Linked DNA regions of Homo sapiens: all the other regions are linked to region 2. The links come from fine-mapping of genetic effects on gene expression. A gene starts in region 2. Each other region holds a variant in brackets. All regions are shown on one strand. Distances are between the middles of the regions.

What was found. PIP is the estimated chance that this variant, and not a neighbour inherited with it, causes the effect.
Region 1: its variant is the best candidate, but not a certain one, in a credible set for the expression of TMEM51 in monocytes after LPS (Fairfax 2014, PIP 0.87).
Region 3: its variant is the best candidate, but not a certain one, in a credible set for the expression of TMEM51 in monocytes after LPS (Fairfax 2014, PIP 0.79).

What each region holds. Positions count from the first base shown.
Region 1 is chr1:15,280,821-15,291,508 of GRCh38, reverse strand. FHAD1 (forkhead associated phosphopeptide binding domain 1) reads right to left here. Exons shown (of 34, transcript NM_001391957.1): 4 at 1,843-2,110. LOC124903853 (a long non-coding RNA gene) reads left to right here. Exons shown (of 2, transcript XR_007065482.1): 2 at 1,760-4,153. Among named protein-coding and RNA genes, the nearest start is that of FHAD1, 39 kb to the right of the region's middle. RefSeq lists an enhancer at 1,411-2,610. The variant C/T (reference allele first, on the strand shown) is at 4,059.
Region 2 is chr1:15,148,384-15,159,071 of GRCh38, reverse strand. It overlaps TMEM51 (transmembrane protein 51), which reads right to left and starts at 5,325. Exons shown (of 4, transcript NM_001136218.2): 1 at 5,118-5,325. TMEM51-AS1 (TMEM51 antisense RNA 1) reads left to right here and starts at 6,608. Exons shown (of 5, transcript NR_027136.1): 1 at 6,608-6,781. RefSeq lists enhancers at 3,820-4,481, 4,613-4,702, 4,482-5,143 and silencers at 4,853-5,032, 5,123-5,172, 5,233-5,502.
Region 3 is chr1:15,233,599-15,244,286 of GRCh38, reverse strand. It overlaps a transcript of FHAD1 not described here. Among named protein-coding and RNA genes, the nearest start is that of FHAD1, 8.3 kb to the left of the region's middle. The variant A/G (reference allele first, on the strand shown) is at 4,345.

The DNA.
Region 1 (10,688 bases), 130 kb before region 2:
GCTAAATGTTTAGGGGGAAGTCTACAGCTGTAGGAAACTTATTTTAAAATGTATCTAAAATTAAGATGAATTAATGAATTCACAAAATGATTGATAGAGAGATATACAATAAGAGTATAGCAAAATGGGCCAGGCGTGGTTGGCTCACACCTGTAATCCCAGCACTTTGGAGGCCAAGGTGGGCAGATCACTTGAGGTCAGGAGTTTGAGACCAGCCTGGCCAACATGGCAAAACCTCGTCTCTACTGAAAATACAAAAATTAGCTGAACATGGTGGTGTGTGCCTGTAATCCCAGCTACTTGGGAGGCTGAGGCAGGAGAACCGCTTGAACCCAGAAGGTGAACTCCAGCTTGGGCAATAGAGTGAGACTCTGTCTCAAGAAAAAAAAAAAAAAAAAAGAGTATAGTAAAATGTTAATGGTAGATTTAGGTGGGGAGGGGGTCACTGTAAAATTATTTTTACTTTGCTGTATGTTTAAAAAATGTTCATATTAAGGCTGGGCGCAGTGGCTCATGTCTGTAATCCCAGCACTTTGGGAGGCCGAGGTGGGCGGATCACAAGGTCAGGAGATCAAGACCATCCTGGCTAACATGGTGAAACCCCATCTCTACTAAAAATACAAAAACAAAAAATTAGCCGGGTATAGTGGCAGGAGCCTGTAGTCCCAGCTACTCGGGAGGCTGAGGCAGGAGAATGGCGTGAACCCAGAAGGCGGAGCTTGCAGTGCGCTGAGATGGCACCACTGCCGAAATCCTGCCACTGCACTCCAGCCTGGGCAACAGAGGGAGACTCCGTCCAAAAAAAAAAAAAAAAGTTCATATTAAAATGTTGGGGGAAAATGGCTGAGTCATTTCTCAGTGTGGGTGGTAGGTATGTGGTGGTGCATTTGATGATGACGGTGATGATGATGTAAACCGTGGAGACACATGGCCTTTACTCTTCAGCTTGCGTATGTCACAGTAATAATGATTTTAGTGACTGAGGAAGGTGACTACATGAATGGTCTTGAGCAAGACCGGAAAAAGATATGGAAGCCGCTGGGAGATGTCTGGGGACTCCGAAGGGCCTGGGGCTGGGACAAAGAGGACAGAAAATGGGACCTTGATGCCATAGGCTAGGGAGGAACTCTGGGAACCATGCCTGGGGACTAAACTGACCAGCTCTTCTGCTGGTGAGGCTGCTGAGGCCAAGAGGACAGTGACAGATGGGAAGTTTCCTCCCCAAGTGCCATGAGGCTTTCAAGGGGGTAGTGGGGAAGGAAGGACACCCTGAAGGTTGTGTGTGTCCCAGAGTGACCAGGTTGTGAGTGGGCTGTCACCGAGCTCACCAGCCTTTAAATGGGACTGAAAAACATTAGATTAGACGGGACTGAATACACTTCCTCGGGAGAAGTCATCTTCCTGGTAAGTGTCACTCTCCTCTGACCTGTAAAATGGTGGTAAAATATTTTAAAAGCTCCTAGGGCTGTTGGGGGCAAAGGGGATTGCAATTACTAATATTTTTGCACAACTGAGTCAAAGTGTGTTGACGTGATCCCATGACACACTCATATGTACACACACACAGAGGCCACACCCACTGCAGGTGCCCTGGTGTGTGTATACGGACACAGCACAGAGGCTGGAGGGATACGCAGCAGAGAGTCAATAGGGAGACCCTGGGGATAAGGATTACGGCTGATTTTTTAACTGTTTTCTTACTTTCTGCTTATCCTGAATTTATTTTCATTTTTTACAATTGAATATGTTCTACTTTTAGAATCAGAAAGTAAACCAAAACCAAGACCCATCCACATGGCCGTGAACCACCCCCAAGCCACCAATGGCAGCCCTGACGCATACCTTGCTTGATGACGGGTGGCTTGCGGGCGTCGTCCACCACGAACGAGAACATCTCCTTGTTGGCGCTCACAGGCCGCCTGTGGGAGGCCGGCAGGACCACGGTGGGTCTGGGAAAGGCCTGGGACCAGCTCCTTTGCATCGGTGCTGGCTGGACACCTTGGTGGAAGGGGATATGTGATGGTGGGGGGGCCTGGTTTGGCTGCTGTGTGGCACGAGGTGGCTGTGGCCCTGGCCATGGTGCTGGGCCCCTCATCCATGGGAAAGAGACCTGCAGGGGCAGACAAGGGTCAGGGGAGGTTATGACCGGCTGGGATGGTCTCCATTTCTTTGTCCCAGCCACAGCATTGCTGCCCAAGGTCTTGGTTTATGAGTCACTTCCGGTCGGGCAGGGTGGCACACAGCTATAATCCCAACACTTTGGGAGGCCAAAGTGGGAGGCTAGCTAGCTTGAGTTCAGGAGTTCAAGACCAGCCTGGACAACATGGCAAAACCCTGCCTCACCAAAAATTCAAAAATTAGCTGGGCCTTGTGGCCTATGCCTGTAGTCCCAGCTACTTGAGAGGCTGAGGTGGGAGGATCACCTGAGCCTAGGAAGTAGAGGCTGCAGTGAGCTGTGATAGCACCACTGCACTCCATCCTGGGCGACAGAATGAGACTCTGTCTCAAAAATAAACAAACAAAAAAACAATGAGTCACTTCCCCCAGGAAGCCTTCCTGGACTCTCCTCAAGTTTGGGATGGGGGTCCTTGCCTGGACCACACGGCACACGATCACACCACCATTGAGTGAGTGCATGCTTTACCCAGGCATCTTGCCGAAAGAGTCACCTGCATTAACTCATTTAATACACTCAACACTCTGTGATATCAACACTCGGAGGACACAGGCCAGGCAAGAACAAGGGACTCTGAACACCCACAGACGTGGTATTGATCTGCTGAGTCAGGAGAATGTCCCCTCTAAGGGATTAGGGACTTTTCATCTACCTTACCACTGTATCCTCAGCCCCTAGAATAAATGCTTGGCACATACCTAGTAGGTCCTCAAATGTTGGTCAAAATAACAGAACAAGCCAATCACTGAGATTCCAGCCCAGCTCCCTGGGACTCCACAGCCTTTTCTCTTTCTGTCCATACTGTGGGTCCCTCTATCCCTCAAAGTTCAGAGCTCTGGGATTGCAGGGACACTGACTGTCTGATTAGCCTTTGCTTTTCCACACCAGCACAGCTGATTCTGGCAGAGGCCCCGGGGAAGATGCTCCAGCTGCTTTCAGTGGAGAGCATGTCAAAATCCATCTAACCGTGGATGAGCAAACGTGGAGTGGTGCTGACACCTGGCTTTTGCCGTGGATTAATGCTTTAGTGGTGGTTTCTCCCTGGTGCCTAGTGGTTGAAGGTGGCACTGATGAGCACTATCACTTATTGCACCGAGCTTATTGATTCCTCACCATGACCCTTTGTGTGAGGGTTCTCCTTATTCCTGTTAGAAGTGAGGCTTGGAGAGGTTAAGGGATTTACCCAGCACAGGCAGTGGTGGACAGGGAACTGGGATCAAGATCTGATGGCCTCTCCTTCTTCTCTCTCTCTCTCTTTCCCCTCCTCTGTCTCCCAATTGTCTTGGCAGAAATAATGCTTTCCAGGTAAGAGCTAAATTCAAAGGTTTGCTTCCTAGAATAGAACTCATCCCTATTTTCCCAGGGCTCATGGTTCTCCTTCTGTAGCCCAGAGAGAAGATGAGCTCAGACACACACAATGAGGAAAAGGACAGAATGCTTCCAAAATCAGAGCTCCAGCAGACAGCACTTCCTAGAACTTCAGCTGGGTTTCATTGAAAAGGAGGGCTCTCCACTCAGGATCCTAATCTCCAAGCTGCAGTCTGTCTACAGCTGCTCAGGGATCCTATGCATTCCCCCTAAGGCTCTTTCTTGGAGTCAGTGAGGAGTGTTCTGGGAAATCTGGCACCAAACTCCGATCACCTGGTGATACATGGTTTGGCTGTGCCCCACCCAAATCTCATCTTGAACTGTAGTTCCCAAAATCCCCTTAGGACGGACTGGGAGGGACCTGGTGGGAGGTAATGGAATCATGGGGGCAGTTACCTCCATGCTGCTCTCGTGATAATGAGTGACTTCTTGTAAGATCTGATGGTTTTATAATGGGCTTTCCCCACCCCCTTGCTCTGCACTTCTCCTTGCTGCCGCCATGTGAGGAAGGACA[C/T]GTTTGCTTCCCCTTCTGCCATGATTGTAAGTTTCCTGAGGCCTCCCCAGCCCTGGGGAACTGTGAGTCAATTAAACCTGTTCGTTTTTAAATTACACAGTCTCTGGTATGTCCTTATAGCAGTGTGAGAATGGACTAATACATCTGGGGACACCTGGCCAGGCATTCAAATGACACTGGCCCACTTGAAGTCTGTTTTCAGGAGTGGGTCTGGGCCGAGTTCCAGAACTCTGTTACCTTACGTGTAGTTTCCCATTTCTCTCCACTGTCAACATCTCAGCCTCTCCACCTACCCTCTTTTCCATTCTTTGGTTTCAGAAGCTGAGCCACTGTGCCCCTGCCCTGGGCTGACTTCTCCGTCCATCATGTCCTTCCCCATCCTCAGGGCTGTCTTGCCTCACTCATTCCCATGACCTTTTCCTATGGGTTTAATAAGTACTCATTGAATGAATGGGCTGAAGATGACAGCGGGCAAACTCCAATGCGTTTTACTCCAGCCTTCTGGAACACAAAGGTAGAGAGTATTGGGTGTGGTGGAGGAATCTACTTTCATGCTAGGACATTCAGTAGGCAGGGCTCTAAGTTAAGGGTGCCTCATGCCAACTAACTGCACAGGTGCTAATGGGAGTGAGCGTGTCTCCTGTCTCAAGGGTAACACTTCTGCAGTGGCCAGGCCAGAACCCACTCAGCATCTTTTGGAGATTGTGGGTAAATCTCCCTCCCTCTCTCGGCCAATTGTTGTGGGTGGGGCTAAGCAACAAATCACATTCAGTGGCCATAGTGATTGGCCAGGGGTGGGGCATGTGATCCAATCAGAGCCAAGGAGACTAGGCTGGACACCAGAATCTCTAGCCACAGAGAACTGGGGACTTGAGAATGTAGCCAGCACCAAGGGGTGCAGCCCAGACGTGGAGAGAGGGAAGGTGGTTTTCTTTTCTCCATTTTTTTTGAAACAGCGTCTCACTCTGTCATCCAGGCTGGAGTGCAGTGGTGCAATCACAGCTCACTACAGCCTAACCTTCCGGGCTCAGGTGATCCTCCTGCCTCAGCCTCCTAAGTAGCTTGGACTATAGACGCAGGCCACAAGGCCCAGCTAAATTTTGTATTTTTTGTAGAAATGGGGTTTTGCCATGTTGTGCAGGCTAGTCACAAACTCCTGGGCTGAAGTGATCCTCCTGCCTCAGCCTCCAACAGTGCTGGGATTACAGGCATGAGCCCCAACACCTGGTCTGGTTTTTGTTTAATTGTAAAAAAATACATAACAAAATTCTCCATCTTAACCATTTTAGGTGTACAGTTCAGTATTTTTAAGTATAGTCTAATGGCTGTGAAACAGATCTCTAGAACTTTTTCATCTTGCAAAAGTGAAAATATATTCTCATTAAATAACTCTCCCTTCTCCTCTCCTCAGAGCCGCTGGTAACCACCATTCCCCTTCTATTTCTATGAATTTAAATACTCTGTCCCTCATATAAGTGGATTCATACAACATTTGTCCTTTTGTGACTGGTTTATTTCACTTAGCACAATGTCCTTAGGATTCACCCATGTTGTAGCATGTGTCAGAATGTCCTTCCTTTTCATGGCTGAATAATATTCCATTGCATGGACAGATCACATTTTATTTATCCATTCATCTGTCCATGGACACTTGGGCTGCATTCACCTCTTGGCTATTGTGCATAATGAACAAACAGAGAAGCTGGTTTTGAGCCCTGGCTCGCGTTGCACCCTGCACTAACTGCTCAGTACTGTGAGGCTAGTTTGAGCTGGTTTTGTCACTTGTAGCCCCCACAGTGCTAATGAGAGGGTCTCTAAAGGGGCCAGTGCATGATGTGTAAATGCAGCAAAGACTGCAATCAGCTCTTTCAGTTAAAAAAAAAAAGTTTTATTTTGTTATTTATTTATTTATTTATGGAGATGGAATTTTGCTCTTGTCACCCAGGCTGGAGTGCAGTGGCGTGATCTCGGCTCACTGCAACCTCCGCCTCCTGGGTTCCAGCGATTCTCCTGCCTCAGCCTCCCAAGTAGCTGGCATTATAGGCATGTGCCACCACGCCCAGCTAATTTTTTGTATTTTTAGTAGAGACAGAGTTTCACCATGTTGGCCAGGCTGGTCTTCAACCCCTGACCTCAGATGATCCACCCGCCTTGGCCTCCCAAAGTGCTGGGATTACAGGCATGAGCCACAGCGCCCGGCATTGTTTGTTTTTTGAAAGCATGTTGATTTAGGGTGGCTTTAGTTGGAAGGTTAATGTCAGTCTTCTCTACTTAACAGGCCTACTCTATCATAAGCAAGGTCAAGGTTTTCTCAGAAATTGCTGCTGGTAACTACAAGGAAACAGTGAGGAGGATAAACAAACATAAAAAAAAGACTCCTGAAAAACTGGCTCCTGGCTGAGCTCACATTAGAATGTACATAGAGTTTGGGATCAAGGTCAGTTATCAACAAGTCTGGCTTAGAAATATTAGTTAAAAAATACTTGCTAGTGCCTTCTTTCTTTCACTCTCTTTCTTTCTTTCTTTCCTCCTCTTTCTTTCTCTCTGACCATATGGTGTGTGGCGTGGTGGTTTTTTCTTTGTTTATTTTTGAGGCCGCATGTGCTTTTCCTGATCTCTCCCACACTGTCTAAAATAGCAGGCTGCCAACCACCTGGACCACACCCACGGCTGAATTTCTATCAGCTTGAATAAACACCCAACCAGTAATGTACTCGAGAACTCCAAATCCATTGTTTCCGGATGATCTCCTTGTTTCTTGTGTTATTACGCTAACATCTGCTTCTGACCCTGTCAAGGCTTCAGGGTGAGAAGGACACCCTAAAACGCCAAGGGAGTTTGCCCAGAGTCCTACAGGACCCATGCATTCTTCCAGGAAGCCCTGGAGGCTGTGGACAAGGTGGGGAAGTAGACCTTGCCCTTGGAGCATCTGTCATGTTTTCTGCTATCTGCAATTTTTTTTTTTTTTTTTTGAGATGGAGTCTCGCTCTGTCGCCCAGGCTGGAGTGCAGTGGCGCAATCTCAGCTCACTGCAAGCTCCGCCTCACGGGTTCATGCCATTCTCCTGCCTCAGCTTCCCGAGTAGCTGGGACTACAGGCGCCCACCACCATGCCCGGCTAATTTTTGTATTTTTAGTAGAGACAGGGTTTCACCGTATTAGCCAGGATGGTCTCGATCTCCTAACCTCGTGATCCGCCCGCCTCGGCCTCCCAAAGTGCTGGGATTACCGGCGTGAGCCGCTGTGCCTGGCCTCCAATTCTTACCACTTGGCTTTGAACCACCAAGGAGAGAAGGCTCTAGGTGCTAGGCTGTGCTGTGCCCTTTGTATATGTGGCCCCATCTAATCACGAGAATAACTCTGGGGTAGGGGAAGCATTTTTACCCACATTTTGTGCATTAAAGGAGCAGAAGCTCAGTGAGGTTCAGAGACTTGCCCCAGGTCCTGAAGCCTGGAAGTGGTGATGCTGTCTGACTCCAAACTCTGTGCCCCTGGAGCTTCCAGGTCATTTGAAGTCATGATTTGCACTTGCTTTCCATACTTGCAAAAGGATCTTAGATGATTGGCTAATGAAGAATAGATTTTCTGAGTTAAAAAATGAAAATGAGAAATAGATGGTGTGAAAATCCCCAAGATGGTGCATGGACAGGATTGATGTGTGGACAGGATTTTCCAGGAACGTTATAGGTTCCCTCCTGCAAGTCTGAGTCACAGGGTATGTGCAGCACCCTGGATGCCACTCAGAGAACTGCAGTCTCCCCCCAGGCAGGGCTGTAGCTGGCTCACTGCTGTGCCAGAGGAGAGCTGGGGCCTGTTGGTGCTGGCTCATGAGAGCCGATGAGTAAATGTTGAGAATTCTGTGAGCTGGCTGATAAACACAGCCATTAAAAAATAAATTATATATACTTACAATTAAATTATACCAGAAACAACAGTAATAAATACTTAAAACTTAGCCTCCTAATTATTTTACTATATTTCATGATAATCTGTGCTCTTACAGTTATTCTTCCTACTGCGTCTGTGTGTTGGCAGTGCTGTAGAGTGATGTGCTGCTACCCAGCTCTCTGTGGCTCTGTGTTAGTGAAGCTTGAAATTGGCCAGGATGGTGAGGTAAGAGGTGGGACTCAATTCTGGAGGTTTGGCTCAGACACCAGACCAAATTGAGGACCAGCTAAAACAGGGCCGCAGTGGAAGCAGCTTTTCATAAGACACGCCCACCAGTGTGCCATGTCAGTTTCGCATTGCCATGGCAACACCCAAAAGGTACCACCCCTTTCCATGGCAATGACCCAACTACCTGAAAGGTAATACCCTTTTCCTGGAAATTTCTGCATAAACCACCCCTTCGTTTCTGTGTAATTAAATGTGGATATGAATATGACTGCAGAATTGTCTTTGAGCTGCTACTCTGGGCGCACTGCCCATGGGGTAGCCCTGCTGAGCAAGTAGCAGCCCCGCTCCTGCCACTGTGCACTGTTGCTTCCATAAAAGGTGCTGTCTCACACTGCTGGTTTGCCCTTGAATTCTTTCCTGGGCAAAGCCAAGAACCCTCCCTGGCTAAGTCCCAATTTTGGGGCTTGCCTATTCTGCATTAATGGGAGTATTTACACCACAGAAATCAGGGAATGTTACAAATCAGGGATTGATTTTTTGTTTTGTTGCTTGTCTATTCTTAGGAAGGTGTTGGATAAAATATTAGTAATACAGATGAGATTTAAAAGTGTTTTATGTCTGTAGCCATCACATTATGAGTAGCACAAAAGATATGGAGGAAATTTTCTTCTGATATTCAAAAACTATTATCCAATAGTTTCTTCTGGTATTCATAAACTATGATAGCAAAGAAGGTGCTCATGTCATTGATGAACATGTGAGGTTCCAATACAAATCTTTCTCATTTCACTTTCGTCTTACTCACAAAGGTAAACAAATATATCCACCAGTATTCCGGTTGGAAACATTCATCAGTTGCTACCATAAGTTGGCTAGGGATACAAGAGTTTGGCAAAAATCAATAAAAACCCTCTGTGAGAATCAATGGCTCTATGGAATTTATGATAAATTTGCCATAAAGAGTCCTGCATATTTTGTTATTATTTATAAAGAATGTGCTACACATTCTTTGTGTCAGTAAGCTTTATACTATACCTGCATACTTTACTTTTTCAGACACTCATCAGCATAGCACTGGCTGGACCCAGTGCCCAGTGAAGGGCCTGGCACACACTCTAGGTGCCTGCTGACCGAACTGAATTGAACAATTGGCAAACAGAGCCAAAGTTAAAAAATACCCTTCAGCTGATTCTGGGGCTGGGGCAGGGAGAATACACTATGAGCCTGGGGCATCTTGTAACAGCAGAAAGTGAGTAAGTGCTCAAAAACAGAAGGTGCGGGCCCTGTTAGAGGGATAAGCACCAACCCAAAAGCGCTCCAGTGGCCAAGGCTAGGACAATATGAGCTACAAAATAAATAACATCAGGTGGATTATAGCACAGAGAATCAAATAAAGACAGAGGAGTCCGTACTGATATAGATACATGAATGAGTAAATAATTCAATGGCAGAGAAGAGACACTTCCTTACAGAAGAATGTAACACACATAAGTAATCCCCAACCAGGAGGTGGAGCTGAGTCTTAATCAATGCCCCCTTCCTCCCCTCTCCTTTTTTTTTTTTTTTTTTTTTTTTGAGACAGTGTCTCACTCTGTCACCCAGGCTGGAGTGCAGTAGCGCGATTTTAGCTCACTGCAACCTCCGTCTCCTGGGTTCAAGCGATTTTTATGACTCAGCCTCCCGAGGAGCTAGGATTACAGGCATGCACCACCACACCTGGCTAATTTTTTGTATTTTTAGTAGAGACGGGGTTTTGCCATGTTGGTCAGACTGGTGTCAAACTCCTGGCCCCAAGTGATCCACCCACCTTGACTTCCCAAAGTGCCAGAATTACAGGTGTGAGCCACCATGCCTGGCCAGGTTATTTAATTAAAAAACAAAAACAAAACTCTTTTAAGGGACCTTTGAGTTACCAGAAAAAAATAATACAAAATCCACATGGAACCACTAATGTCGCTTATTCATACAGGTAGTCCTCTAGGTCTACTTTCAGCCTCTACTTCCTCTGATCTTACTCAATTTTACCCTAATAACTACACAATTACAAGGACAGGAAGGGGCAAGAAAGAAGGGGGAAAGGAGGCACACTGATCCCAGCAGAGAGCAGGAACTGACTGCCAGACCCTAAAACGCAGACAGAAGAGCCCCAGGGCAGCAGAGGGTGCTATGTGCGGCCCAGGAAGACAGCCTTCTCCATCTCAACAGCCCCTGGCGGGTGCCAGGATTCAAAATGGGGCAATAATTCTAAGTCTCCAAGAAAAGGATCAATTATGTCTAGGATTTTCCATTCCAGAAATTGGGATTATACATGTTAGAACACAGAACAGCCAAGTTACATACTATTTCCACGTTTTAGAACTTAAAGAAGTAGGTCCCTTTGAGCTATTCAAAAAGGCCATTTATCTGGATTTTGGCCAGGTGGGTTAGGGGACACCTAAGTGCATTCTGGCCCATCTTACTTTCCATCTTTGTAAACCTTCTAGCTTAAAGTTTTCCTTTTCCTTTAAGTTCTAAT
Region 2 (10,688 bases):
TTGCTTCTAGGACCCATCCAAGGTTTCCCAGGATCACAGTATAACCGGAGCTACATTGCGCAAGGTTCTTACCATGCAGGAGGAGAGACGTTTTTACCTAGTGACTCAGTGCACATCCACAAACAGATAACTGAAAGTTTTACTAAGGAATATTTCTCGTGACAGGAAATGCATGCTATTTTCTAGTCCACTGTCTTCTACTTCACTTTTAAAAATCCAGCGGAAAACCACTCAACGATGCTCAAATCCACTAGTAAGTGGCTGTCCATTCTGTGAACATGAGCTTAGAAAATCCCCAAGATACGAGTACTTCCAGTACTGATGATTTATGGCATTAACAAAGCTGTGATCCTGGTAGAGAGAGACAGAGACCCCGCCCCATCCTGTTCCCAGAATGGGGTGTCCTACCTGAATCACCGATTAGGAAACAAATTCTCTGCACATCTTTGCTATTGAAACGCCTACTCTGCAAGAGCCAGGGTTTGGAGATGAGCATGCCAAATACCGATTTTTCTAGAGACCTGCAACTTGCCTAACCCCATGCCTAATCCCAGGGAGATTTGGGGCAAGGGGCAGTGATGGTGGGGTGGCGGCACTTGGATGGGTTAAAACAAACACAGCAAAAATAAACACATAAAAGTCAGAAGAAACAAAGCTGTCTCCCTCCCTCTGTATGAATTTGGGTCACACGCATCACACCCAGATGGCCCGTGGCTTCCATTTCTAAGAGTTCAGAGAGAATTGCTTTCCCAAACCCCATGGTGATGCAGAAAAACGGCCCTCTGGACTCCCACAGTGGTGAATTGGAAACGTCTTTGCACTTTGCACAGCGTCACAGGGTTTTGGCCAAGGGAATACCTGCTAGCCATCAAGGGGTGGAAGCACGTGAGACCTACAGGTTAGATCCTGCGTGAAGTCACTCACATTATCTCATGAAGATAACAGGCACTGTAATGACGAGTTGAAAAACCAGGATACGGGCTGGGCATAGTGGCTCTTGCCTGGAATCCCAGCACTTTGGGAGGCTGAGGTGGGAGGATCACTTGAGCCCAGGAGTTCAAGACTAACCTGGGCAACACACAGAGACCTTGTCTCTATTTTTTCAAAAGCAACAACAACAAACCAGGACATGAAACAGCTCAGCAAACAAAAACCTGAATAAAACGCCACCATATTAACAGTGGTCGCCAGCCTTCACGATGTCATCTGCTCGTTTTTACAAGGAGCACCTACTTCTTTTGTAATCTGTGGACGAAGACAACTTTAAAAGCCTGCCATCCAAAGACACATTATCAAGTCTGGCTAAGGGAGTGCCAGATAAATGCACTCACTAGCTCATGCCGTGGTGTTAATGCCAGTTTGAACAGACAGGACCTGGAAATGCGCAGACACACTCCTCAATGTGCACACCTCATCTTTCAGGACCCTTGGCCCTTACTCCTCCTGACCATGTCACCACGGATGCCACAAAAACACCTGGTAGTGTGAAGTGCAGACAGAAAGGGGATCTTGGAGGGGGAGGGTGCCCTGTTTTGTTTTTCAAGAATCATCCTCAAAATCATTCAAGACAAACTCTGGAACCTCGGGTTCTGGTCCTGGCTGTGATCTCAGGCAAATCTCCTCTTCCCTGGGTCTTGGTCTCCCCAGTTGTCAAATAAGCAGAGTGGATTTTCTGATGGCTAAGATCCCTCTGGCCCCGATATTCTAAGATCTGAAGCTACGCATTCAGGTTTAAGGGCTGCTAAGTCTGATAAATCCAGGGCAAGAGAGAATGTGGAGACTTTAGGTTGCTCCGCCCAAGTAAACACCACAGACAGAAGGTGAGGACCAACCAGCAGTCTTGAGACGGGAGCTGAGGGGAGGAGTCGAGGGTCAGGGGAGCTCAGCAGAGACCCTCAGAGGGCTATCTCTGGTCAGCATCTTGGGGCTGTCTGGGAGGGACAGGGCTGTGTGGCCTGGTATTGGGAAACCAAACAGGTGGCTTGTTTCTTCCAAACAAACGGCCTGTTTTCTTTCTCAGGAGCAAGAGCTCCCAGGAGGGGTGGCCATGGCAGCGAGGGCTCAATCCAGAGGAAGGGAGAATAAAACATTGGCAGGGGAGGCTGCACCACCTGTCCAGGCTGGGGAGGAGCTCAACTCTATGAAGCCGCTTGAAAGACTGAGAGGTTGAGAAACCTGGGGCCCAAAACAGTCTTGGTCCCGAATGTGGCCAGGTCTCCTGGGTTAAAGTAAAGGGCCCTAGAAGGGAGTCAGGAGGGCTGGGTTCCAGTCCCAGTTCTGCTGCTGAACTGTTGTGTGTCCTTGGGTAAGTCCCATCCCCTCTCTGAGTTTTGTTTGTCAAATGAGAATGATGTCTCTGATGACCTGAAGGTCCCCTCCACCTGAGACATTCTAGGACCTTCCTTTTCCCTCCAAGCAAAGGGAGACTTGAAGCATGGAGAAGGATATTCTCACAGCTTTCGCTGCAAGAGGAGGATTCCTCCCAGCTTCAGAGCAGAAACAAAAGTGAAAGCAAAAGTCAGCAGCCCCCATACCACATCCCAAGTCAGAAGACACCTGAGCTTCTGAAACTTTCCCAGCACCGAGGGAGACAATGCTTCTCTTTTGCATGACTCCCACCTTAATTTGGGGCTGGGGGAAGAGAATCCACACTAAAGCTCCTCACACTCTGGCCTCTTCCAGCCCAAGAAGCCTGAGGGGTTTACAGCCAGGCCTGCAGAGGGAGGGAGGAACGTTGACCAGAAACACAACCTATTAAAACGGGAGCCCCAGAAGCTCCAGCTGGCCTCTGCCTCCAGCTTTCCCATCCCTCACGCAGACAGAGAAACTCCCAGGCCTCGTGACATCTGGAGCCAGCGAGCCGGAGAGTCGCAGCTGGAGGGGCTTGGGTCCTGCCAATACCCCAGACACTCACTCACTACTTCTCTCTGGCAGGGGACCAGGCTGGCAGTTTGGGCCTCATGTAGAACCCCAGAATCTTACCCTTGACCAACAGTCATGAGTGAAGGCCACACATTACTCTCTGCTTCCTGTATGGGCCTCTCCTCCAGCTCCCCCATTCATTCCCACTGCCCCCACCAACCCACAGGCCAGCCTCTCTCTCCTAGGAGTCTTCTCTAGGATCCTCGCCAACTTCCAGGCAGCCAGGATTATCTTCTTAACATATGGATGGGATCAGACGACTTCCCTGCTTAGAGAACTTGAATGAAAGGGACGTCTTTCTCCATGTTGTTCATCTTTGTTGAGCACCTAGAACAGCGCCTGGCCCACAGAAGGTGCTCGGCCAACATATGTTGAATGATTCCAAGAAAGCCCCCACCTGTCCAGTCCAGCTCACTCCGGACCTTCCATTCCCTTTACTTTTCCACACCCTCCACTGCCTGAGCACCTTCCCCAGCCCAGCACACCCCAGGCACTCTCCTGTCGCTGTGCCTTTGCCTGTGCTGTTCGATCTGCCCAGACACCCTTCCTCCCCTGTTCCCTGGGGGGACTCCAGTTCCCTGATGAATATTCTAATACTCTTTTCTTAGCAGGACCTCCTGAGTTATTTCCTTTCTTCTGTTCTCGTCTAAGCCCTGTGACATAACTTACTATAGAATACTTCATGTGCTAGGCATAAATACCCCACCTCGCCCTTGGAGATCATCATCCCATTTTACAGATGAAGAAGCTGAGGCTCAGAGAGGTCAGGTCACACAGCCAGCAAGTGGTGTGGCCTGACTGTATCGCCAATTCTGCAACACTTTTCATGAGTATCCCTGACTCCCTCACTAGGCTGGGGGCTCCCTGAGGCTTCTGGGCTCTGGGTCACTGGGGCAGGCCCCAGACACCCCATCAGAGAGCTGTCAGCTCCGAAGCCGTGAGGAGCAGGTTCACCACTAGCCTCCTCTCTCTTTCTTTGGCCTTTTCTCCCAGTCTGGGGGTACCTCTCAATTGGTGGAGTGAGATATTTGGAGGGGCAGGGGCTCTGTCCCAATAGGTCAGGATCCTCTTGTGACAGGTTTCCGGGGTGTGAAAGCTGTTCACGGTCCCAGGGCCAACAGTTCCCTAGACAAGCTGTTCTCCGGGTAACCCATTCAAAAGGAAAGCCAGAAGCCGGCCGGTCCTAGAGGGGAAAGCCTTCCACCCGCTGACTTACCTCCCGGTTCGGGTCCCTGCCCCGCCCACCTCGTCCCCGCCCACCCCACTCCGGCAGCGCCCGGGTTCCCAGCAGCCAGACCTCCCCTGCTGTTGGGAAGGACCCGCAGTCCCATGCACCGTCACAGGCACCTCGGAGCGCTGCGCAGGACACCCCACGGGCTGCTCCCTGGGGAAACCGTGGGGGAGGGGCCAGGTCTCTCGCCCCCACCGCTGGTTGGGAAAGAGACCATTATCCTGTAATGCAGACCAGGCGCGCCGGGCCAAGCGCCTCCCGTTTGTGCGCTGATTTGAGATCTGATTTGTACTCTGCTCTCCCCTAGGCCCGGTAACGTAACTTACCGCTGAGTGCTTGCTGGGTGCTGGGCATGAATGCCCCGCCGCACCCTGGGACGTTGTCATGTCAGTTTCACAGATGAAGAAACCGACGCGCTCAGGGAAGGACTCGAGTTTCAATCCACTTTGCTCATGCCCGATTCTTTACCCCCGTGTTTGCTTGTAGAGCGACACACACACATACACACACACGAATCTAAATCCCTAAAAGGCCCCGACTTCCATACAGTAAGGGATGCGCGAGCAAAGCGCCAAGGTGGTTTCCTGGGACCTACTGGGAAGTTCTGCTCCTAACCACGCGCTGAAAGCGCTTCTGGCGAAGCCAAGGGTTCGAAGCCCGCCGGGCGGATAGCACCTGTTCCCGCCAACAGGGGGCCCCCAAGGCCAGCTGCCTTCCCCAGCCGAGGCCAGCTGGCCAGGCGCGGTGCCCGGGAGGCGGGAGCGTCCCGCGCCGGCGGGGCGCGGCCGCAGAGGGTGCGGGGTGCGGAGTCCTCCCGGTGGTCGACCCCAGGCGGGAAGCGCTCGGCGGACAGACGGACGGACAGGAGACCCAAACGGGCCTCGGCCCCCTTACACGGCCCTGTGGGGAACCGACAGCGCGCCGCGGGAAGCAGCGGGCGCAAGGCGCGGCGGCTGAGACTCACCCGGGAGGCGGCGGGTCCGGCTCCGTCTCGGCTGGGCGGTCCGGGACTGCGGGCTTCGCGACCCCCGCGCCCCACCCGGGCGGCCTCCTCGGTGGGCGCCGCGATCGCGGGGCTGGGGTTCGGGGGATTCTTAGCCGAGGGAACGCAGTGGTGGAGAGGGCGCACTGCCCTCTCAGGGACCGGGTTGGGGACGCAGGAAGCGCGGCCTGGGAGCGCCGGCGTGCGGGAGGGAGGGACCGCGGGAGGCGGAGGGCGGTGCCGGCCAGGAGCGGCCTCCAGCCCGGAGAAGCACCGCCCACCGGCCGACCCTCCCTCCCGGCCCTCGGCACCACCCCCGGGCCCGAGGCGAGGGATCGCAGCTGAGCGAGGCGGGCACCCACTCCCCAGCGTATGCCGCTGGAGCGCGCTGAGCGTGTGCCGGGGGCTGGGCCTAAGTTCTCCCCAACCCTTGCCAGCCGAGTTGGATAAGAGGGGGTCGGGAGAAAATAGAGCCCTGATCCCCCCTCCTCCCTAGGGCCCAGAGAATCGGTGTGCATGCGTGTGTGCGCGCACGCGCGTGTGTGTGACGGGTGGTGGTCGGGGAATGTCTCAAGCTAGAAGTCCCAGGTTTTAGGGGTTTAAGTGGAGCTGGGAGACCCGCTTTCCTCCCACACCAGGCGCAGACGCCGAGGCACAGCTCCGCCAGCCGCCCCGCCTTTACCTGGCGGGATACTCACCTCTCCTCCTTCCTGGGGAGGCCACCGCCTCCCTCTCCCCCTTCTGCCCTGGGCTGGTTCCCAGCGAGGTGAGTGACCGGCACAAGTAGGGAAGGAGGAAGCGAGTTTTTAAAAACTGAGTCAGCTCACGCCCTCGGCCAGGGTCCCCACCCGATGCGTGGTCCCCAGGGCGCCCTCGGGATCGCACGCCCGAGTCCCGGCCCAGGTGGGGCCCATTCCGGGTTCTTGCGCGCGGGCAATGGATGGGGGCGCGCTGCACCGGGAGCCTGCCCTGCTGAGGGCTCATCCCCAGCTTTGCCGAGAACTTTCCCGGCGAGGCACCGGCTGGCGTTTTCCCAGCCTGCGAGTGGCAGGCGGGCAGCCAGTCTCTGCTCGGATCCACGGAGGCCCGGAGCCGCCACGGAGTTCTGGCTCCGGGGAGTGCAAACCCGAAGTCGGCGCGGAAGCCTCTCACCCGCGGCTCTGCCTCCGCCCCTTGGAGATCTGCCCTCGGAACTGCGTTGCTCTGGCGCCCGAACTAGGGTGGGCTGGTTTCAGCCAGACCGCCAAAAAACGTGGATGCTAAACACAGAGGGAAGAGCCAGCTCCCATTCCCTCTCTGAGCCTTAGATTTTTTTGAATTCCGAGAGAGGTCAGGCCGGGGTCCCCTTCTTGGGTGAGCGTCCAGCCCTTTGAAGTTCAAACACTGAGAAGCCGATAGGCAGCTGGCTGGCGTCACAGGATCGAGCCGAGGACTGAAGGCGCCTCCTACCGGGAATCCACCGCCTCCAGACGAAAATAGGCTGCAATCAAGTTCACTTCCAAAGGCGGAATTCATGGGTACATATGGTGTCCACGTGTGTACACCTGCAGAGTTGTAACATGCGGGCATTTCTCCCCTCAGCCCGCCATTCTGGCTTCTTAACTTGCACCCTAACAGCTCGACAGAACCTTGGCGTCCACAAAAAGGCAAGTTTGGGTCTGCCTTATGATTTGGGGGTGGGAAGGCATTTGGGGAAACAGTCTCCATGTCTATGACAGCAACTGCTATTCCTCACATCCTTGCTATGAACCAGGGGCGGGGTTACCACCCACATCCCCTGAACCATCTCATTTAATCCTCATAACCTAGGAGGCGGTTATTTGTTATGCCCACTTTATAGAAGAGAAGGCTGAGGCTTAAGGAGGTGAGGTCATTTTGCCCAGTGAAAACACAGCTGGGAAGTATCAGGATCTAGACCCAAGATGATCCACTCCAGAGCTTCTGCTCTCCCTCCCATAGCATAATTCCTCCTGTCTGCACATACTCTCCACCCTGAGAGAATGTTCACCTTGCCTGGCCACCTGCAAATGCGGAATAAACATTTGTTGGATGAATGAAAGCCCTAAATAATAACCCATGATTTTAGTGAATAGGGAGGACCCTTTGTGTAGGCAGGTACCTATAATAATATGCTCCCATTTAAGAGCTGTGCGTATTCATCCCAAAGTTTAGACAATGCATGTGGGGACCTTCCCAGGCTCCAAAGGAGTGACAGGAAACAGTCACGTAGCTCTCAGATAAGACCAGGAATCTGGTTTTCATTTGACTCTGCAAGATGGACTTTGGAGAGGCCTGGGGTGGGGGCGGGGGGTGATCATGTCAGAACAGCTGTCCCAGCTCCTAATCTGAAGACAAAGAGCTGCTGTACTTTTCCATGCCAGGGTCATCCCAGACCCGCCCCACTCTGCTGCAGACTCAACTGGGCAGGTCTTGTTTATCACAGGATATCATCTTCAGAGTGTTCCATTTAAGCAGGCTCACCCTGGCTGATCTGGGGAGAGACTGACGAAATTCTCAGGCAAAGCTGAGGCCCAGGCAAAACTGAAGAAGCTACCAAAGGAAGCATGCCTCTCCTTATCCTCCTCTCCTCCACAGCCCTCTCCCTCTACATGGTTAGTTTCTCTGAATCTTCCCTACCATTTATTGAACCCTGTGTTTCACGTGCACTGCATACATTGTGTTCTTTGGTTTTCAAAACAGCCCTAGAAGGAAGATTCTATTATTCTAGTTTTTCAGATGAGGCTGTTAAGACTCAGAGAAGTTAGGTACCTGGATCTGCTAGCAAGTGACAAAGTATTTGAATCTGGGGTCTTTGCAGGGCCCTTGCTCTAAATCACTAAGCTAGGAACCCCCTTCTGTGATAGGCAGAATAATGGCTGCCCAAAGATGTTCACAACCTGATCCCCAGAACTGGTTACTTTACGTGGCAAAAGGGACTTTGCAGATGGGATCAAGTTAAAGATGTTGGGACGGGGAGGTTATCCTTGATTTTCCTGGTGGGTCCAATGTTGTCAAAAGGGTTCCTACAAGAGGGAAGCGGGAGGGTCAGAGTTAGAGAGGGAGATGTGGTGATAGAAGTAGAGATCAGAATGATACAGTTGCTGGACAAGGGTCAGTAGCCAAGGAATGTGGGCAGCCTCTAGGAGCTAGAAAAGGAAAGGAATGGAGTGTCAGCCAGAGCATCCAGAAGGAGCTCTTGGCATCCACAAAAAGGCAAGTTTGGGTCTGCCTTATGATTTGAAGGTGGGAAGGCATTTGCAGATCCGTTTTGGACATCTGACCTCCAGAACTGTAAGAAGATAGTTCACTGTGTTGTTCTAAGCCATGAAGTTTGGGTCAATTTGTCACAGCAGCGGGAGGAAACTAATACATCCTGCAAACTCAGTCACCTAGGCAGATGTTCACTTCACCTGCTTTTTTGGCTAACTGTCCACTGTAAACTTCTGAAGAGGCACCATGATCTAGCCTACATCACGGATTTAGAAAGAAGGCAGGATTCCATCACCTTTGTCTTTGGTTTCTGAATCCTCTGCTATTTGTGAGTTGTGTGACCCTGGGCAGATGTCTTGTCCTCTCTGAGCCTCAGTTTCCTCATGTGTCAAAAAAAAATTATTAGCATTTCTATGCTAATAATACCTATTTTCCAGGACCAACTCGGGGATCAGGTGAACTAGTATGTGACAAAGTACCCAGTGTGGCCTGAACATGAGTTGTGGGAGCATTAGCCTGTCTAGTTCTGAAAGCCTGAATTCAAAGAGGAGAGGATGCTGTTCTGAGAATTCCCGTGGCATTACATTTTTATTCTTTCTGGCTGAATGGGTAAATAACGACAGTTTTAAAATATTCGACTGTCCCTGGTTAGTGACCAAGACCCCAGTCTGTCATGCTACTGACTTTCCAGGCACATCAATGAAAGTGAGGCTGGAAAATCAGCTTATAGAAATAGATCATCATGCAGAACAACTCACACATGTGCTCAGGAACAGAACGTCCAAGGGTTTTCATTGCTGATTAATTGTAACGGTGAAAAGTGGTCACCAACCTCAATGCCCAGCACTAGGAGCTATGCTAAGTAAATTGTGGCATAGACTCATGCTGGCACACTATGAAGTCACCAGAAAGAATGAGGTAGAGCTATCTGACATGGAAGAACGTCCAAGTTATATCATTCACCGAGAAAGGCACTAAATATGATGATACTACACAAACCACTTTTTTTATTTTTTATTTTTTTGAGACAGAGTGTCTGTCACCTAGGCTGGAGTGCAGTGGTGCAGAGGTTGCACTACAACCTCTGACTTCTCGGTTCAAGCAATTTTCCTGCCTCAGCCTCTCGAGTAGCTGGGATTACAGGCGTACACCACCACGCCCAGCTAATTTTTTGTATTTTTAGTAGAGATGGGGTTTCACAATGTTGGCCAGGCTGGTCTTGAACTCCTGACCTCAAGTGATCTACCCGCCTCAGCCTCCCAAAGTGCTGGGATTACAGGCATGAGCCACCATGCCTGGCTCACAAATGACTTTTTAAAAAGATGTAGACACACATACATATATTTGATTATGTACAGAAAGACTATGGGAGGAATCAAACCAAACAGGTTACCCTTAGAAACTGAGGGGGGGTGTGTGTGTGTTGGGGAGGTAATTTTATTTTTTAGTGAGAATGTGTTAATAATAAAGTTGGCTGGAAACCACCTGTATTGTCCACCAGGAGCATATCCTCCTATTATCTGTCCCTGTATCCTCCCTTGCTTGCTCTGTTCTCTGCCATCTGTCATTCTTTACCCTTGCTTGGTTCTGAGCAGGTCACTCTCTCTTCCCACTGACTTTTTTTTTCAGACAGGATCTTTCTCTGTCACCCAGGCTGTGGTGCAATGGCATAATCTCTGCTTACTGCAGCCTCCACTTCCTGGACTCGAGTGATTCTTCCATCTCAGCCTCCTGAGTAGCTGGGACTACAGGCATGCACCACCACACCTGGCTAAGTTTTAAATTTTAAATTTTTTTGTAGAGATGGGGGTCTTGCTACGTTACCCAGGCTGGTCTCAAAATCCTGGGCTTAAGTGATCCACCTGCCTTGGCCTCCCAAAGTGCTAGGATCACAGGTGTCAGCCACCGCGCCCAGCCCCCACTTACTCTTAATGTGGGCTTATTTCTAAACCTGTGAGGAGCTGAGCAGTGTCTCTGCTGTATGACTCTTGCCAAAGTCAGCAGTAAATCACGTATGTGCACTTTCAACCTGGCCTTTTCCTGAAACGGTGCACATTAGTCACCGGGAAGGGATGTGTCTTGCGTGTAGGTTTCACTGGTGATATACTGGCCCAGCCCCACTGAAGGCTGAATCAGGTCTGTGTGGCAGACAAATTGTGCTCACGTAGCGCAAAGCAAAATTGGATAGTTGGACCATTAGTTTAAATAAAACAGTTTTGTCCCGTTTGCTGAAAAATGTTGATTCTGGAAATGTGTTTCTATCTGAGTTACCAGTGTAACTGGACCTGTGTAGACAGCCCAGAATGAAGCTTCTGAGGACATCGTCGCATTGGGGTACAAGTT
Region 3 (10,688 bases), 85 kb before region 2:
AAGTTGCCAAATCTTAATTGGATCCTCTGTCCCTCAGGATGCCACTGTTATCTCAAGGGTGTGCAAAGTTCTTGAAACCCAATTCCGTATCATCCATTTTCATTTCAAAAACAGAAAATCAAATACCCAATAACTTAGGGTTTTATGATATAATTTCCTGGGCTGAGTAAGAGAGTTGTACATTGCAATTAAACAGTGATGCGGCATTAAAAATACTGTCCCTGAAAAAAAAAAATAGATGTTTCTAGATTACTTGTGCTTCTTGGCAGTGCCTACAGTTAACCTTTTATTGAACTCTTGGTGACGACGAAGCCCATATTGTAGGAAATAAGGCTCAGAGACAGGGAGAAATCTGCCTAAAGTCACACAGCTAGAAAATCTGGCAGGATTTGAATCGAGATGAATGTGACAAGGAAGGTATTTCCCCTGGGGAACTACAGGTGACAGCTGTCACAATCACAAGATGCCACTTACTCACAACTGCTTTCTCTCACTTCTGAGCAGCCTGCACTCTTGTCTGTCCAAAGGTTCAGGCAGTGCCCAGGGCAGGGAGTGAAGGGGGCATAAGCCCAGAGGAGGCAGCTTAGGCCTGCCACCCACATTACCTGCTGACATTGGGCACTAGGCTTCGTTCCTGCAGAACTTCTGCCCCCGTAAAATCTCATTCCTTCCCAGCCACCTTCTCTGGGCTGTTCTTGCCTGGGGAGAGCCTAACCCTGTGCTCCATCCTCAGAGAACTGTGTGATGTTTCTCCTGCTGCCCTTGCATTCCAACATGAAATGAATGCTGGCTTCAGGCCCCAGCCGCGGCCAGGAGAGGTGTGGAGGCTTCCTCAGCCTCTATGGCATGAAAGAGAGCCAGAGAAAGAGCAAGAACAAGAGAGTAAAGAGTGCAGGAAATAGCCAAGCTGTTGCGCAGGGTGACGGATGACAGAGAGCAGAGGGCCCACTAGAGACTCCACGGCCCATTAGTAACCTGACCATATAAGCTTAGAAAGTACAGATTTTTATATACAGACCTACACACAGAGACTCATGAAAATAATTTCAAACCATGGAGAGAATAACTGGCAACTGAGGCTTTCTGCAGCCATCCTTGCCTTTTCCCGTGGCAGAAAATGAGAAAATATGGAGCTTCGTCTCATGTCGACTCTTTCATGCTGGTTTGGAGCATTCAGTTATCTTGCAAATCATTTTTCAAAGTCAGTTCCCCTTGGTTCCTTGCGCTTTGCTGTGGGGGGGTCTGTCTGTACCATCCGTTCAAAAACTGCAAAGTGTGCTGGCCCCACCTGTCCTGGGCCTGGTTTTTGTTGTATTTTGTTTGTGCCTCACTTCCCTCACCTGTAAAATGGGTATACAACAATCCATTTTATTGAAAGGATTAAATGGGTTAAGACGTATGAAACAATGGATCAGTGGCTGGTACAACTGAATGGCTCTATGAGTGTTTACGATTATTGCCTGTTTTCTTTTTCTCTGATGCTGTGCGAAGAGAGCCCCAATCTCAACCCAGGTCACAAACACTCTGGAGAAACTTTGATTTGCATCAAGACTCAGTCCTACTCCAGAACAAACCTGATCTCTGGATGACTAGTCTCATATTATCTGGCCGGCTGCTCTGAGACCTTTCTATATGTGGATATGGATATAAGAGATAGGATGTGCTCCTTCCTCTAGTCACAACTAGAGGTGATTCTTGGGAACCCAGCAGTCTCTATGGGGTGGCACCTGCTGGACAACTCCATAAATTCTACTTCCAGGCATGTGGGCAAACCTTCACTATATTTTTTTGAGTGACAGTGAACCTTTATGAATGTGGTTAACAAATTCAGCTCATATTTATTAAAGCTAACAAGGTACCAACCACCATGTCATGCACAGTTTTATTTAGTTCTTAGCCCAACTCATTATACAGAAAGAGAAATTGAGGCACAGAAAAGTCAAGTAACTTAACCAGTTACAAATCTTGCACATGGTGGTTCTGGAATTCAAACTCTGGCTGCCAGATTACAAAGTGCTGTACTTTTTGTAAACTTTTTTTTTTTTTTTTTTTTTTAGATGGAGTCTTGCTCTGTTGCCCAGGCTGGAGTGCAGTGGTGCGATCTCGGCTCACTGCAACCTCCTCCTCCCGGGTTCAAGCGATTCTCCTGCTTCAGCCGCCTGAGTAGCTGGGACTACAGCCACACGCCACCATGCCCGGCTACTTTTTGTATTTTTAGTAGAGACGGGGTTTCACCATGTTGGCCAGGCTGGTCTCGATCTCCTGACCTCGTGATCCACCCGCCTCAGCTTCCCAGAGTGCTGGGATTAGAGGCGTGAGCCACTGCACCCGGCCTTTTTGTAAACTTTTTATCGAAGATAATATACATATTGAAAATATACATTTTGTCTCAGGTCATAATTGCACTTTATAGCATTACAAATGGGCTGAGACACCATTTGAATTTTTACTAAGTGTACTCACCCACCTAACCAGAATCCAGATCAAGAAGCAAAACATCACCAGCACTCCTAGAAGTCTCCCTGTGACCCCTTCCAGTCATGACCCACCCCCTGGGGTAGCCCCTATCCTGACTGCTAATGTCATAGATTCGTTCTGGGTTTTTTTTGTTTGTTTGTTTTTTTGTTGTTTGTTTTTTTTGAGACAAGACTTTTGCTCTTATCACCCAGGGTAGAGTGCCATGATATGATCTCACTGCAACCTCTGCCTCCCGTGTTCAAGTGATTCTCCTACCTCAGCCTCCCAAGTAGCTGGGATTACAGGCACCTGCTACCATGCCCAGCTAATTTTTGTATTTTAATATAGGTGGGGTTTCACAATGTTGGTCCGGAAGTCGAACTCCTGACCTCAGGTGATCCACCCGCCTCACCTCCCACAGTGCTGGGATTATAGGCGTGAGCCACTGCGCCTGGCCAGTTCTGTTTGTTTTTGAACTTTATGTAAATGGGATCCTACAAATTCCATCTTCTGTCTGGTTTCTTTCGCTTGACGTTATGTTTGGGAGATGTCTTTTCATCTCCCAAAGTCAAGCATGTCTCTTCAAGTAGCTGTGGTTCATTCATTCTCATTGCTCTGTCGTATTCCATTGTATTGGTTATCAATTGCTGCTTAACAAACTACCACAAACTTAGCAGCTCAAAACAACCCACATTTATCATCTCACAGATTCTGTGGGTCAGGAATTGGGCAGGGCTCAGCACGGTCCTGTGCTTTAGGGTCTCACAGGCTGCAATCAAGGAGCTGGCCAAGCTGGGATCTCATCTGAGCCTCAACTGGGGATAAATCTGCATCTGCTTTCTTTCTTTCTTTCTTTTTTTTTTTTTTTTTTTTGAGATAGAGTCTCGCTCTGTCAGCCTGGCTGGAGTGCAGTGGCATGATCTTGGCTCACTGCAACCTCTGCCTCCCAGGTTCAAGCGATTCTTCTGCCTCAGCCTCCCGAGTAGCTGGGACTACAGGCAAGTGCCACCACCCCTGGCTAATTTTTGTGTTTTTAGTGGAGAAGGGGTTTCACCATATTGGCCAGGCTGATCTCAAACTCCTGACCTTGTGATCCACCCTCCTCGGCCTCCCAAAGTGCTGGGATTACAGGCATGAGCCACCACGCCCGGCCCGATCTGCTTTCTTTTTTCTTTTTCTTTCTTTTTTTTTTTTTTTTTGAGACAGGGTCTCTCCTGTTGTCCAGGCTGGGAGTGCAGTGATGTGATCGTAACTCACTGCAGCCTTGATTTCCCAGGCTCAAGTGTCCCTCCCACCTCAGCCTCCTGAGTAGCTGGGACCACAGCCATGTACCACTAAGCCTATTTTTTTAATTTTTATTTTTAATAGAGATGAGATCTCACTATGTTGCCCAGGCTTGTCTTGAACTCCCGGGCTCAAGCGATCCTCCCACCTTGGACTACCAAAGTGCTGAGATTACAGGCATGAGCCACTACACCTGGCTGGATCCAGTTTCAAGCTCACATTGTTATTGGTAAGATTCGTTTTTTTGAGGGTATCAGAAAGAGAGCCTCAGCTCCTTGCTGGGTATTAGCTGAGCTCACCCTCAGTTTCTTGCCATGTGGGCCTTTCTGGAAGTTGGCTTGCCTCATCAAAGTCAGTAAGAGTCAGTAGACAGAGTCTGCGACTCTGGACCCCCAGTAGACTCTCAATAGAGAGATGGAAGTTATAATCTTATGTAACATAATCACAGAAATTACATCCCATCACCTTTGCTGTATTCTACAGCTTAAAATAAGTTACAGGTCCTGCCCCGACTCAAGGGAGAGGATACCACAGAGGTGTGAACACCAGAGGTAATTGGGCGCCACTGTGTATGTCCGTTGGTATGCATATGTGCACATGTCT[A/G]TTAGATATAGACCTAGGAATAGAGGTGCTGAGTTGCAGATTCAGCAGATGTTCAGCTTTAAAAGATTCTGACAAACATTTTTCCAAAGCGCTGGTACCAATCTACACCCCCCAGCAGTGCATGAATACTTGAGTCGCAGCACATGCCTTCAAATATTACTCTCCCCTCTCTACTTACAGAAGGAGTTTGACCAGGAGTTCCTTGGAACAGGAGGTCCTAAACCTGGCCCCATGTCAGAATCACTGTTCCTGGGCTGTACCTCCAGACTTTCTGATTGTTGGATGGCTGGGATATAACCTGGAAGCTACACTCCATGTGGTGAAGGTTCTTTGTTGTTCTTTTTGTTTTTCTTTTGAGACAGAGTCTCGCTCTGTCACTCAGGCTGAAGTGCAGTGGCACAGTCTCGGCTCACTGTGACCTCCGCCTCCCAGGTTCAAGCGATTCCCCTGCCTCAGCCTCCCAAGTAGCTGGAACCACAGGCATGCACCACCACATCTGGCTAATTTGTTGTATTTTTAGTAGAGACGGGGTTTCACCATGTTGGCCAGGCTGGTCTCAAACTCCTGACCTCAAGTGATCCGCCCACCTCGGCCTCTCAAAGTGCTGGGATTACAGGCATGGCCCAGTGCACCCGGCCATCCTTTTCTTGTTCACCCAAGCATCCCTGGTGCTCAGAGCAGTACCTGACATGCAGCCAACATTCAATAAGGATTTAAATAAATGAATGAGTTTAGGGGCTGAGCATGGTAGCTCATGCCTGTAATCCCAGCACTTTGGGAGGCTGAGGTGAGAGGATCATGTCAGCCCAGGAGTTTGAACCAGCATAGGCAACATAGACAGACCTTGCTTTTACAAAAAATAAAAAAGTTAGCTGGATATGGTGGCACACACTTGTAGTCTCAGCTACTCTGGAGGCTGAGGCAGGAGGATTGCATCAGCCCAGGAGTTCAAGGCTGCAGTGAGCTATGATCATGCCACTGCACTCCTGCCTGGGTGACTTAGTGAGACCCCCGTCTCTTAAAGTAAATGAATGAAGGAGTTTAGGACTATTGTCCAAGAAGACCTACTGGTGGCCTCAGGGAAGGTGTGAACCACTGAAATTGGGAGGAAGCTTTGATGTGTCTGGGCCTATGTGTATTTTTCTGGAAAGAGGGCCCAGAGCCTTAACCAGACTTCTCCCCAGCAAAGGTTAAGAGCCTCTTTGATTGGACGTGGTCTGGGGTAGTTGATTTATCCTATAAAGAAACAGTTGGGCCTGGGGAAGGAGGCACAGGGGCTGTGTACAAGGCTCTGTGGTGCTTGGCAGGGTTTAGGAAGTGAGAAGAGAGACAGTCTCTGCCTGGGGTGGCTTATAAGCTGACACCCCTGCTCACTTTGTCCTTTGACTTATGGTGGCTCTTTTGGCACATCTAGCCACTGCTTGGCCTCCTGTGCCCTCCCTTGTGTCTGTTTATTGAATAGCAAATTCCAGAAGGCCTTGGTGGCCCTGAGTTTCCATCAACAGCAAGCCAACATGATTCCTACCTTTTGAGAAAGCTGCTTCCAATCAACAGCAGGCCTCCCTGTTGGTCTAGTTTGAGATGACCTCAGCCCTTGTCACCTCTCTGGGTTTCTGGAGGTTTTGTAGCATCTCACTGCCATCTGCATTCTCTTCTCATTTCAACAGTGCTCCTTTTTTTTTTTTTTTTTTTCCTTGAGATGGAGTCTCACTCTATTGCCCAGGCTGGAGTGCAGTGGTGCAGTCTCGGCTCACTATAACTTCTGCCTCCCGGGTTCAAGCAATTCTCCTGCCTCAGCCTCCTGAGTAGCTGGGGTTACAGGTGTGCGCCACCATGCCTGTCTAATTTTTATATTTTTAGTAGAGACAGGGTTTTACCAGGGGTCAGGCTGGTCTCGGACTCCTGACGTCGTGATCTGCCCATGTCAGCCTCCCAAAGTGCTGGGATTACAGGCATGAGCCACCGCGCCTGGCCAACAGTGCTCCTATCTTAGGCATTTTGCTTTTGTTTCAGGTCATCCCCATCGCTCGCTGCTGATCTTCCTTTCTGAGCTGATCAATCCCCTCACGCTGGACATTTCTTCTCAGGTTTCCTCTGAATCATTTTATTTGGTCTAAACATGTCCAGTTTTTCTGCCTTCCTTACAGCACTCAACACAGACTCTCTCTTTTCTCGAGAACAACTGTTCTTTTCTTTCTGATACTTTACCCAAATCCTCACCTTTCACCGTGTTTTCTGACCTCTCCTAAGAACTGATTGTTTTTTGAAACTTAAGTCTCAAAGATTGTCCCTTCTAATCTGGCTCTGAATTTGAATCGTTGTCAAGAAACAAGGGGGACAGTAATGTTCCTGGGTCACTAGGATTCTCAGTAGAAGGGCCGAGTGCTCACCAGGGGCTGAGGGGCTGGGGTTGGAGAGGGAGGGACGTGCTTCCACGTGGGGTGGAGCTTGTGGGGTCAGGAAGGGCTTTGAGAAAAAGGAATCACTTGACCTGGGTCTTGAAGGATGGGTAGGATTTCAGGAGGGAGAGAAGGAAGAGAAAGGCATTGCAGGAGGAAGGAGCAGTGGGAACAAGAGCTGGAAGATGGGGAATGAGGGAGGCTACGCAACCGTGGGACAGAGGGAGGCAGGGCCAGGTGCTGAGACTGCAAACTGAAGGCCACAGTCAGCCTCCATGTTTCTTTGGCTTTCACAGTGTGTTAAAATACTTTCAACTAGTTGATGGAGGATACAGCCTCTTTCTGTGGAGTGATAAAGAGCCTGTATTAGTCCATGCTTATGCTGCTATAAAGAGCTGCCTGAGACTGGGTAATTTATGAAGGAAAGAGGTTTAATTGACTCACAGTTCTGCAGGGCAAGGGAGGCCTCAGGAAACTTACGATCATGGTGGAAGGGGAAGCAAACGCGTCCCTCTTAACATGGCGGCAGCAAGGAGCAGTGCCAAGCAAAAGGGGAAAGCCCCTTATAAAACCATCACGTCTCCAAGAACTCACTCACTGTCAAGAGAACAGCACGAGGGTAACCGCCCTCATGACTCAATTACCTCCCACTGGGTCCCTTCCACGACATGTGTGGATTATGGGAACTACAATTCAAGATGAGATTTGGTTGCAGACACAGCCAAACCATATCAGAGCCCAGTTCAAACTAGCTTCAGCATGAAAGCAAATTAACTGGTTACCGTAAATGAAAAGTCTGCAGGGCTCAAGTGATGTCATCAGACCTCAGTCTCTCTCTGGCTCCTCAGCAATACTTTTGACCACGTGGATCCAACCTCAGACAGAATCTCTGTATAATGGTCCCAGAAAGACTGCTGCAGCTCCAGTCCTTACATCTTCTCAGCTTTGAATCCCAAGGGGATGAGAGAGAATTTTTTCCTAAGATTCTCCCAAAGGCCTCATGGCTTCTCATTTTCTCTGATTGACTCACAGGCCCGTTTCTAAGCCAATTAGTGTGGTCCGGGGGACTGCTGTGCTCTGATTGGCCAAGCTTGAGTCACATGCCCATCCCTGCAGCCGGAGATGGAGTCAACTCAACCAGGAAGAGACTGAGACTGGGCTGAGAACAGGAAAGGGGGTGGTCCCCAAAGGGGAATCATACATAACACCGTAATATTTTAGAAGAAAGGTGAATTGATATTGGGTGGCAGAAGCTTCAGGTGTCTCCTGCAGTGGCTAACGTACAAATCACGTTGACTTACTTTACAATTTGGATTTATGTCTTTTCTGGGGAAATTGGAACATCAGGCAATACTTGGGCTCTGTTCCTGCACACAGAGCAACAATCTGTGAGGCGTGTGGAGAGGCTGCCGCCTCCAGGTACAGCCTGTGTCCTCCTTGTCCGCCGCGCTTATTCTTATTCCTTCTCTGTTCTATAACTGCTTGAGTTTTTACCCCTGATGTATTTTGATTATGTGGATCTGTTTATCCTACCAGAATGGAAGTGCTAAAAGTACAGGGGTCAAGTAGTTCTCCCTGTGTTCCCACAAAGTTCTGAGGTCAAATGCCTGGCCGTTAAAAAAATTCAACTTTTAGCTGGGCATAGTGGCTCACGCCTGTAATCCCAGCACTTTGGGAAGCCGAGGCCGGCGGCTCACTTGAGGTCAGGAGTTCAAATCCAGCCTGGCCAACATGGTGAAATGTCTCTACTAAAAATAAAGAAATTAATCGGGCGTGGTGGCGGGTGCCTGTAATCCCAGCTACTCTGGAGGCCGAGGCATGAGAATCGCTTGAACCCGGGAGGCAGAGGTTCCAGTGAGCTGAGATCACACCACTGCACTCTAGCCTGAGCGACAGAGTGAGACTCTGCCTCAAAAAAAAAAAAAAAAAATTCAACTTTTATTTTAGATACAGAGGGTAAATGTGCAGGTTTGTTACATGGGCACATTGCACCCAGGTAGTGAGTATAGTATCAAATAGGTACTTTTTCAACCCACTCCCCCACCTCCTTTCCCCTCAAGTAGTCTGCAGTGTTGAGTGTTCCCATGTTTATGCTCATGTGGGCTCAATGTTTAGCTCCCCCTTCTAAGTGAGAATATGCGGTATTTGGTTTTCTGTTCCTTTGTTAATTTACTTAGGATAATGGCCTCTAGCTGCAACCATGTTGCTGTAAAGGACATGATCTCATTCTTTCTTATGGCTACGTAGTATTCTGTAGTGTATATGTGCCACATTTTCCTTATCCAATCCACCATTGATGGGCACCTAAGTTGATTCCATGTCTTTGCTATTGTGAATAGTGCTGCGATGAACGTAGGAGCGTATGTGTCTTTTTGGTAAAATGGTCTTTTTCTTTTTGGGTATATCCTGGCAATGGGATTGCTGGGTCAAATGGTAACTCTGTTTTAAGTTCTTCGAGAAATCTCCAAACTGCTTTCCACAGTGGTGGAACTAATTTACATTCCCACCAACTGTGTATAAGCATTCCCTTTTCTCAACATCCTCTACAGCTTCTGGTTTTTGTTTGTTTGTTTTTTTGACTTCTTAGTAATAGCCATTCTGACTGTTGTGAGATGGTATCTCGTTGTGGTTTTGATTTGCATTTCTCTCATGATTACAGATGATGAGCCTGGCCATTTTTGATCATCTCATTCCTTGCTCATTTTTAAATCCTTCTTTTAAAAACTATTTAATACAAAGTAGAATCAGTATCTGGGAATTCCAACACCTGATGTCCTTGGGGTGCGAGGAAGTGTCTCAATCTACTGTTTGTTCTTTCTGCTCACTCTTGCTCATACTGACTTGTTTCTTGGAGGGTTAATAATTTGAATGTGATCTCAGTGTTGATTGAAATTGATCTGCGGGAGTCCTGAGGAGTCTGATTTCTGGCTGCGTTCCTCTAGGAATGATTTTTGTTTGTTTCATTTGGATGCCAGGGCTGCTACCAACCTGTGATCCCTTACATTTACTTCTTCAGCTTGGAGTTTCCCCCTTGAATGCACGGAGTGTTAAACTAATTCCTAGTACCATGTGGTTACGAATCCTCAGGGTTAACAATCGTCATTATTATGGTGGCCATTGTTAATTTTCCCCTCCAGAAACCCTGCAGAGCCCATGCGCTCCCTTTTCTGGCAGTCCAGAAAAATACACTTAAAGCCTTCCCTTTCTCAGGAGGTAGAGCACCTTTCAAGGTCCTGGCTTAATATGGACATTGTAGATTTTGCTAGCTCAGTTTGCAAAGGCCTGAGGTCTGACTTCTTATTTCCTGTACCTGTTAACTCTCCACACTGATGGAGGTATTTATCCTCAGGAATTCCTGGCTTCCTCATTCGCTTATACTTTGGTTATAGCTAGCTCTGCCTATGGTGTGTGTGTGTGTATGTTCCTTTGGGACTACTTACTTAAAAAAATTGGGTGTCCTCCAGCAATCTCATTACTGAGTATATACTCAAAAGAAAATAAATCATTCTACCAAAAAGACACATGCATTTGTCAGTTCATTACTGTGCTGTTCACTATAGCAAAGACATGGAATCAACCCAGGTGCCCATCAGTGGTCAGTAGATTGGATAAGGAAAATGTGGTACATATGCATTATGGAATATTATGCAGCCATAAAAAAGAATGAGATTGTGTCCTTTGCAGCAACATGGATGGAGCTGGAGGCCATAATCCTAAGCAAATTAACTCAGGAAAATAAAACTATGGCATGTTCTCACTTAGAAGTGGGAGCTAACCATTGAGCACACACAGACATAAATATATAGGGACAATAGACCCTGTGGACTCCTAGAGGGTGTGGGGGCAGGAGGGTTAAAAAACTATCCATCAGGGCCAGGTATGGTGGCTCACGCCTGTAATCCCAGCACTTTGGGAGGCTGAGGTGGGCAGATCACGAGATCAGGA